Homo sapiens: one gene and its partners. The protein of the gene in region 2 purifies or fractionates together with the protein of the main gene of each other region. This does not show direct contact. Each region holds a gene or a part of one and is shown on either strand. Other genes may lie near its edges. The genes, in order: MRS2, MINPP1 and UBE2V2.

Evidence for each region.
Region 1: the proteins of MINPP1 (region 2) and MRS2 purify together in Homo sapiens (affinity purification with mass spectrometry; 2 studies listed by BioGRID and IntAct, with this or other methods). This does not show direct contact.
Region 3: the proteins of MINPP1 (region 2) and UBE2V2 purify together in Homo sapiens (affinity purification with mass spectrometry; one large-scale study listed by BioGRID and IntAct). This does not show direct contact.

Annotation. Positions count from the first base shown.
Region 1 is NC_000006.12:24,419,841-24,423,379, forward strand, and holds part of MRS2 (magnesium transporter MRS2 homolog, mitochondrial isoform b precursor), read left to right. Parts: intron 1-3,096; coding exon 3,097-3,210; coding exon of another isoform or gene 3,211-3,216; exon of another isoform or gene 3,217-3,539. UniProt on the Homo sapiens protein: Magnesium transporter that mediates the influx of magnesium into the mitochondrial matrix and regulates magnesium metabolism. Also permeable to calcium, sodium and potassium ions.
Region 2 is NC_000010.11:87,507,819-87,511,480, forward strand, and holds part of MINPP1 (multiple inositol polyphosphate phosphatase 1 isoform 1 precursor), read left to right. Parts: intron 1-14; exon of another isoform or gene 15-386; coding exon of another isoform or gene 387-420; intron 421-517; coding exon 518-715; intron 716-3,662. UniProt on the Homo sapiens protein: Multiple inositol polyphosphate phosphatase that hydrolyzes 1D-myo-inositol 1,3,4,5,6-pentakisphosphate (InsP5[2OH]) and 1D-myo-inositol hexakisphosphate (InsP6) to a range of less phosphorylated inositol phosphates.
Region 3 is NC_000008.11:48,062,784-48,065,334, reverse strand, and holds the end of UBE2V2 (ubiquitin-conjugating enzyme E2 variant 2), read right to left. Parts: 3' UTR 627-2,551; downstream 1-626. UniProt on the Homo sapiens protein: Has no ubiquitin ligase activity on its own. The UBE2V2/UBE2N heterodimer catalyzes the synthesis of non-canonical poly-ubiquitin chains that are linked through 'Lys-63'. This type of poly-ubiquitination does not lead to protein degradation by the proteasome.

The DNA of each region.
Region 1 (3,539 bases), on a different chromosome or scaffold from region 2:
CTGCAGATACAGAACCCACTGACTGTGTTTTCACAGAATAGCTTATTGTAAGTTTTCTAGAACTGAACCTGGATGTGCATCTGGCACAGTGTGATGCTGGATTCTGTGTCCTCATTAGTCTAACGAGTCTACTCTGTTGCCCACATCACCTCCCATTAGGACCACTATGCCCTTTTAAAAAGTGGTCTTTATAAGATGTAAGTATTATGACACCCTTCTGCATACAACTATTCAATGGCTTTTGATTAGCCTTAGGATAAAAATCCCGTCCTGCCGCACCGACTTGTCCATCTTGTGGGTAGCCACTTGTTACTACCTCTCTCAGTGTCCTTCCCAGACATGCTGCTTCCACTCCTCTCCCCTCAGATCCCCGTTTTGCTTAGTTACTTCCTCCTCATCTTTCAGGTCTCAAAGTAGTTGTCCCTTCACTGAATGCACCGACAACCTGGCCCAGTAAAGTTACTTTGTCGTCTGCGCCCAAATAATCCTACCCTTCCATCTGCTACATTCCTTAAATCTGCAATCCCTTGTTCAAAGCCTGCAAAAGAGCATGAGCTCCTTGAAGCAAAGACAGTATTAGTCATTTTTAATGTAAAGTATAAAAGAAAAGGAAATACATGTGTTCATTCATCTCACAAATACGTTTTTTTATTGCCTGTTATATACCAAGCACTGCTTTAGGCCCATTTAGCAGTGAGTCTGCCCTTGCGTAGGTTATATTGTAGTGGAGGAGAGAGTTCATAAACAAACAAAGTATGTTAAGTGCTAAGTGCCTCAGAGAAAAATAAAGCCAGAGAAGCGGATAGAGAATGTTAGGCAGTAGGATGTGTGGCATTTTAGAGATAGGGTGGTCAAGGAAGATGTAAGGCGGTAACACCCTGGTGGAGGCAGGAAGATCTGGGGGAGAGTGTTCTAAGTAGAGGGAACCACAGAAGTAAAGATTGAGGCAGGAACGATCTGAGCTTGTTCATGAAATGGCAAGAAGGTTGGAATGGTTAGAAGAGCATGAGTCAGGTGGAAAATGAGGTCCCAGATGCAGATAAGTATGATCATGTCAGTGACGTAGAGCGTGGTAGGGGTTTGGATTTCTAAGTGGGATAGGAACCCACTGGAGGTTTGAACTCAAATCTAGATCATTGGAAAGTTCAGAAGCAAGCAGAATACCTTGTGCAACATAATCCAGCCATTGACATTCTCAAAAGATACATCCAAAGACCTTTACAGATTCCCTAAGTGTGACTACAGGACTTTCTCTACAAGTCCCTGTCTTTTCTCTAAATACATAATCATGTTTATGTATATATACTCAATCTACAAGCTAACTCCATTTTATACTTTGATATTTTTCTCTCACTTAATTGCCAACTTTTCAAAACAATGGAAGATTTTTCAAATTCCTTTCTTATAGTTTTAGTATGTGCAATCCTAGGTACAGCACAGCCCATTTGTAATGAGATAAGAGTGGTAGGTGGTAGTGAGCTACGCTTGCTCAGTAGTAGGCTGAAAAGATTCAAATTAATGTCTTATCAGAATTACAAATTACACATCTTTGTAGGTGTCCTGAAGAATAGTTGAAAACATTAAATCCATGGATGTCAAATGTCTTTATTTCGATATAGTTAAAATTAATATTTGCCATGGTGAATCTGAGATAGGAAAAATATTTTAAGATAATTTCAGACTTCTGGAAAAGTTCCAAGAATAGTCAAAGAATTTCCATTTTCTTAAACCAGATTCCAAATATCAACATTTTATCACATTTGCTTTATCATTTCTTTGCTAGCATACTTTATTCTCTAAATTATTTGAGACTAAGAACAAATGTGATGTTCCTTTACTCCTAAATGTCTTAATACGTATTTCCTAAAACATGGACATCCTCTTACATAACCACAGTGCAGCTATCAAAATCAGGAAGTTAATACTGAAGTTATTTTCCAATCTAAAGACCCTACTCAGATTTTGCCACTTATCTCAGTAGTGCTTTTTATCACAAAGAAAATCTTAGATCACATATTGCATATAGGACTGGGGGTTGTGGTTCACACCTGTAATCCCAGCACTTTGGTAGGCCAAGGTGGGCAGATCACTTTAGGCCAGGAGTTCGAGACCAGCCTGACCAACATGGTGAAACCCCATCTCTACTAAAAATACAAAAATTAGCTGGGCATGGTGCCGCACACCTGTAATCCCAGCTACTCAGGGGGGCCGAGGCACAAGAATCGCTTGAATCAGGTAGACGGAGGTTGCAGTGAGCCAAGATTGAGCCACTGGACTCCATCCTGGGTGAAGAGCAAGACTCCATCTCAACAACAACAAAAAGAGGAGGCAGATTTCTGTTCAATAAGTGACATGCATTTCCATCAGTGATAGCTGATCAGTTGTGTAACAGGCTATCTTTGAGGAAGTGAGCTCTCAATCATTGGAGCCAATGATAACAGCATAGCTATAAATGGGATTCCTTCCTTGTGAGAGATTAAATTTAAATTCTGTGATTCTGTACATTAACTAAAAACAGTGTGCTGCAAAATATTACCACTCTGAAAATGACGGTGAGGAAGAATGTTTTTCTAAGTCTGAGGTTCCCAAACTTCCTTGGATCACGATGCCCTTAGTGTCTTAGTAATTTTTTCACAGTATCGGAAGACAAAAAATTTATTATGTTACAGATTCCTTTATGTTATTTCCCTTGCAACTTTAAAATATTCTGAGGTGCTATCGTGCCCAGCATAGCACCAGACATTCAGCTCACAGTTTGAGAACTGTGGATATAAGCAAAGACCTTAAATTGCGTGTCCTCTGGCATCATGACTTAAGATTTGCACGCATGTAAACAAAGGCTGCAAAGAAACACAAAGTAAAAGCAGTACATTTGGCATATAGATGATTTTAAAATATTTAAAACCTTTTAAATCATGTTCTTCTCCTGCTTTATTCTGTGGGTGCTATCAAGGCCCTTGTTTTTCTTAGTTCCTTTCTACAGGAAAGAGCTGTACAAATAACATAAGGCTTTCAAACTCTGGGGCAGTAACAATTCAAGGAATCTTCTAAGGAACCTGGCGTTTTGCGATGGAAATGAACTGTGTTCTCTTTTAGGACCATAGAATTTTTTGGCTGATTACAGGAATTATGTTCATGGGAAGTGGCCTCATCTGGAGGCGCCTGCTTTCATTCCTTGGACGACAGCTAGAAGCTCCATTGCCTCCTATGGTATGAAGGATATGGTTCACGGCGGTATTGTGGAAGGGTTATGATCATGGGCCCTAAAGTCAGAGCGCCTGGGATTAAGTTGTCACAGGCACTATGGCCCTTGCGAGTTGCTTTCTCAAACTTCCTTCAGTTTCCCTATCTGTCAGTTAAGTCGGTATTACCTGCTTCATAGGGTTATGGGAAGAATTAAACAATATGTGTAAAGCACTTACTAGCACACTGCCTAACACAATAAGTTAGAAATATAATTTGTGTAGAACTCTGACAACATACATTTAAACAGATGTTAGTAATTCTGGTATAAGGTTTGTCATAACCAAATGGAAATG
Region 2 (3,662 bases):
CCCAAAACATCAGTGCGTTTTGTGCTGCTGTCAGTAGTTTTTGTCCAAAGCAGAATCTTTGTAAAGTAATACAGAGTTGGGAAGGTTAATTGAGAAAATAAAATACTCTGTTTAGACTTTGGCTTAGAGTGAAAAAATAGATTCCATATGTTGAATTCTCTCTCACCTTGTAAGTAGAAACTTTGCTGATTTTTAGTTTGCTTTCTAAAGTTTTCCGTGCCTGACAGAAACAGTACTTATTAATGTATGATGCAATTTCATTGCGTAGCATCTCTACAACACATTTAATCTTCAATCTCTATTTCTTTAGCCTTTTCTAGCTATTCTCATGCGTTACAGCCATTATAAATGGGGAATAATTTTACCCCAAGAGTTTCCTGACCAATATGTGCTTATTTCAGCTGTGCGGATTAGTAAGATGTTAGTGTTCCTTTTTCACACTTAACATTTTCAATAATTTGAAACTGTCATTTATGTCAGTGATTTACAAATACATATAAATTTTTTTCTCTTTCAGATATGGAGTTTGGACCTCCAACAGTTAATGATAAACTAATGAGATTTTTTGATCACTGTGAGAAGTTTTTAACTGAAGTAGAAAAAAATGCTACAGCTCTTTATCACGTGGAAGCCTTCAAAACTGGACCAGAAATGCAGAACATTTTAAAAAAAGTTGCAGCTACTTTGCAAGTGCCAGTAAATGATTTAAATGCAGGTAATATGTCTGTTGTCTTTTATTTGAACTTAACAGTTTAAATAATTTTGAACTGTGAAAATGAAAACATAAGGAAACAGTCTTTTTTAAAGACCCATAATTGATCTACATTAAGAAAATAATATGTTCTGGGTCAAAAAAATTGTATACCTTGTGCTTACTATTTACCATTTTTAGATTCATATTCTTCTTTGAGTGTTATTTAAATTACTGTACAAGATTCTAGTTATATTCTGGAGTTTTTTTGAGGGCAGAGTAATATAAAGCCTCAACTGTAGGCATTATTTTTAAAACAAATTATCTTTTCTGAATTTCCCCCTGATAAAGTGATACAAATGGAAAAATCATATAAATTCTTTAGCTTTTGAAGCAGTTCAAAAGTACCTGTTAATGTGTAAGAGGGGTAAGTTTTAGAAAGTGAAAAGCAAAGTACTATGATGTTTTTTGAGTTATATGTAGCAATGCTGAGAAGATGAGCAGTCATGTCTATCATAAGTTATTGCAGTGGATGGGCTGACTATGCAACTTACCATCCAAACTGGTGGGACACTTTCGAAAGTGAAAGGGAACACTATTAATAATTTTGCCAGGAAAGCAGGTGGGAAACCATGGCACATGGTCACCTAGCAATGGGAGATTAAGAAAATAAGATTTTTTTCTGTTTTCTAGGAATTTATGTTCCATAGGGTAGATGTTGACAAAGATACATGCAAAGATTGTAGATTACATTATACTCTGAATTAATTTCCAAAAGACTGGAAGTAGATGTTGGGGAAAAAATAGATTAGAATTTATCAGTCACAGGGCCTGGATGCTTTATAAGGATCAAAAAGAAGATGCCTAGACTAGCATTTGAAATTGAATTTTTTCTCTCTCTCCAAACTGGCAGTACATTGGCATCGCCTGTGGAGCTTTAAAAATTATTTACTTTATTGGGAAATAATTCAAACACGAAGATAACAAAAAAGGCTAATGTGGTGAACATCCCTATACCCACAACTTGGTTTTACTAAATTTTAACTTTGTGCTTCAGTTACTTGCCTTAAATAAATTGAGGTCTACTGGTCCCTTTCCTGGATCCCATTCTTCTTCCTTTCTCACCAGTGGTAATTGTTGTCATGAATTGAGCATTTATATTATCCCATGCCAGTTTTATACATAAATGGGATATTGTTTTGCAGATTTTAAAACTTTTAAGAGTGGTATCAAAGTTTATACCAGTCCAAAATTCTATTTTTATGCAACTTTTTGTTTTTGATGTAATGTTTGCAATTCTAGTCCTACATTTTAAATGTATGTATTTCATTCTACATCTATACCAATATCTAGCCATTATTCTGTTAGTAGGCAGTTAGGTTGTTGAAAAAGATTTTTTAAAACTATGTTTAGTCTCTGAATGGGCAAGAATTATGTATTTTACTGATGAAGTAACTGACAGCAACTTCTTTTTGGAAGCAGTATTAAGTATAGTGGTTAAAATAATGGATTCTGGAATTGGACTATTTGCATTTGAATCTTGACTCTACTATCCTATTGAATAACTATGATTTTTGACAAGTTTATTAATGTCTTTATGCCACAGTTTCCTTTTCTGTAAAATGAACATGGGAATTATTCTTGTCTTATAGGATTATTGCAAAGATTATATAAGATTAATTCATACAAAGCATTTAGTACCTGGCGCAGTAATTGCGCAATAAATACTTTTGCTATTTAAATACCCTTTTGTTTACATAGGGGGTGATGCTATATGTATTTTCAGTAACTTACTATTTTTACTTAACAATATATTTGTCTCTAGACAAATATAGAACTGTCTCATTCTTTTAAATCCTGTGTTATTTCATGGGACATATGAATGACTCGATTTGTAAGTCAATGCTAGTTAAATTGTTTAACCCATCATCGAATTTTACTGCTGTAAGAGGCTGTTGCTAATGCAGTCCAAATTCTTTTTATAGAAACCATTTTCCTACTGAAGTTTTTCTTAGTTTTTAACTCTTTCAGGTAATGCTACAGTGAACATTCTTGTAGTCTGTTTTTTACACTTGAGAGTTTATTTGTAAGATAAAATAGGTGAGGCCGAGTGCCGTGGCATAACCTATAATCCCAGCACTTTGGGAGGCCAAGGTGGGTGGATCACTGGAGCCCAGGAGTTCAAGACCAGCCTTGGCAACATGGTGAAACCCTGCCTCTATCAAAGACACAAAAGTTAGCCAGTCTTATAACTTGGTCTCCAAATAAATAAATAGATTTCTAAAAATGTTTTTTAAAGATAAATAGGTGAAATTGCTGGGTTAACACACATGAATATTTTACATCTTGACATATATTTTTAAATTGTTCTCTGAAGGTGTAGTAAAAATTTATATCCACAGTATATGAGAATGTTCATTTTCCCATATCTTCCAACAGTAGATATTATTAGTCATTTTAATTTTCGCCAATTTGATTAATGAAAAATAGTATCTAGCTTTAATTTGCAGTTCTTTGATTACTTCTGAAAGTGAACATATTTTCATGTTTAGTAGCCATTTGCATTTCTTCTAAAAATTACCCCTTCATAATTTTGTTCATTTTCTATTGGGTTATTTTTGTTTTCTTATGAATCACAAATACCTTTTATGTATTATGGATATATTAATTATATCTTTTAATTCTGCCTGACAAAGGATTCGCCCTTTGCTTGTTGTATGTTGCTAATATTTTAATTTCTTGCTTATCTCTTAGGTTTGTTGATGGTGCCTTTGATTGCACAGAAGTTTACATCTTTTACATAGCCATATCTGTCTCTTCATTATGGCTTCTGAGTGTTGTATTTTGTCTAGGAATCCTCCCACCGCAAGATTATTATGTTTTCCTATTGTCTTCCTTTTTTGTTGTTTTATTTTTTTCTCAGGGGAGTGGAGGGAAAGGGTCTATTTCGTTTTTTAAATATTTAAATTTC
Region 3 (2,551 bases), on a different chromosome or scaffold from region 2:
CTGCACAACACTTAACATGGTATTTGGTCAGTTAAACACTGGAGAAAGGATAATCCCTGGAATCTCTATAAGAAAACAACATCTATCAGCCTTTATCATTTACTTCACAAATTAACCTGAAGCAAAAACTTTTCAGATGGTCTTATAGACTACACAGAAATATGAGATGCCAGCCAGGGGTGGTGGCTCATGCCTGTTATCCCAGCATTTGGAAGGCTAAGGCAGGAAGATCACTTGAGGCCAAGAGTTTCAGACCAGCCTATACAACAGAGACCCAGTCTCTACCAAAAACAAAAAACAAAACAACAACAACAACAGCAAAAACAGACATGGTGGCGTGCACCGGTAGTCCCAGCTACTCAGGAAGCTGAGGCGGGACGATCACTGGAGCCCAGGATAGCCAAGGGTAAAGTAAATCGTGATCGCACCAATGCACTCCAGCCTGGGTGATAGTGCAAGACCCTGTCTCTAAAAAAAAAAAAAAAAAAAAAAAAAAAATTTAATTTTAAACATGAGATGGAGCAGATTCTTAGGAATTTTTTAGATGAAAAGATCCTATTAAGGATATAAACACCATAGCAACCTCCTCATATCCAATGGTTTTTTTCAATCATGTAACTCACTCCTTGAGTTTGCACAACTCCTTTATTGAAACAAAATGGACTTTAACTTGTCACTTATTTCCTATATCATTAAATACCTTCATTAATTTTCTCTTCAGAAAATACTTATTGTGTATCTTTATTTTCAACACTCCACAATACTTTTAAATAAACAACATTTTCAGTATGAACTATGGTAAGATTTCATCATTCTATAAGGCATATTATTTAGGAGGTATTCCTTCCTATGCATTTCCTATTTTACAGTAAACTCAGTATCAGGTAAAAATTAACTGCTAATGTTCCTATCAACAATTCATCCATTCCTTTTTATGACACTTTTATCTTGTATACAAAAAAATACACAATTTTCCCAAACCTTGAGGAGTTGAATTTTGTGTGTGTGTGACAATAATTAAAAGCCAGTCAAGTTGGTACTGGAAAATCATTTTGATACTTATCAGAAAAGTAAAAGCAGTGCTTTTCGATCCATCCCAGCAATAAATGATACTATGATATTACACATACAGATGCCTAAAAAGCATACTATAAAAGGAAAATTCCTGAAATGCCTCCAAAATCCTATTATGCATACTAGACTTTATCATCAGTACTTATATTCTTCAAAATGTACCTAATACAGTCACATGCTCATTAAAAGAGTTGATACAGTTTTGATGGCAGGCTACAGTTCCCTGCTGTCTTTCCATGATGCATCAGCAGAACCATTCAAAGCCACACACACCAAACCTATTAAGAAAAAAGCATTCATAATTCCCAGCTGTGTCCTCTACATTTTCCAAACAATATTAATTTCACATGTATTTATCAATATTATATATTTAGTGGGAATTAACATTAAAATCAACATATTGTTCTTAAGTAATCCAGACTAATAAACCATGAGTCAAACAAATCTACTCTGCGAAAACCTCAAATCACTCTGTGTGATAAATTATTTTAATAACATAAAGCTATAAATTTTCTCTATTTTTATATCCAAGACTAAATACCATTGACTATCCTTCAAAATGTTTATGTTCCAAAATCCTGTAGTTACACATAAACCCACAACAAAAGACATTACTTTAGAATGGTAGAAAAAAATATTTTTAAAAATTGTCAATTCTTAAAATTGGTTAAGTAATTAAAACCATTAAATCATAACACTGACCTAACAGGACAAGAAGTTTCTTTTGGTAATCTTTATTAGTATATGATCATCCTCAAGGGTCTCACTTGCTAGCCTTTTAAACAAATTTCTAAGGCAAATTTACAGTTCATTTAAAAGGTAATAAATACCACACACTCCTACAACCTTAGCCACTTTACAAAACAAAGGAAAAATTTCTTCCAAATGTTATTATAATTAAGAGCTTTTCTATATTAATTCCTCTTACAGTCTCCCAGTGTGTCTTAGATTGCCAAGTACATCTTGATTGTGACATGCAAAATGGATTCTGCTTTAGAAATGGGTTAATTGGCATGCAGATTTCTGCAGAGATCCATAATCCCACAAACAAGAGGGGAAATGAACATTATAGGGCTGACTCTGACAACATGTACTTGGCAGGGGAAGGCGGCAGGGGGTTGGCAACTTCACAATGGTGGATTTGGGGGAAGGAAACAGGACAAGAGACTGAGGTACCCAGACCCTCATCCTGCCAACAGCATTCACGTAGTTACTAGCTTCCATGTATAATAAGACACATTTTCAAAATGGAAAGGAGGTTATCAGAGAGACGGATTCAGATCATCAGTTACCATTAGACTACAGTTTCATTCAATTTAATCTTTAACCATTAAAAATTTTTAAAGACTATATTTCAAGGTAATAGTTCATTTCAAATTTAACAAATTACAAATGCACTAATTTGTATGTATGTGTATGTTCTCTATGTGTCATCTTAAAGCATTTTAAACATTTTTGATAATTAAAATGCAACAGC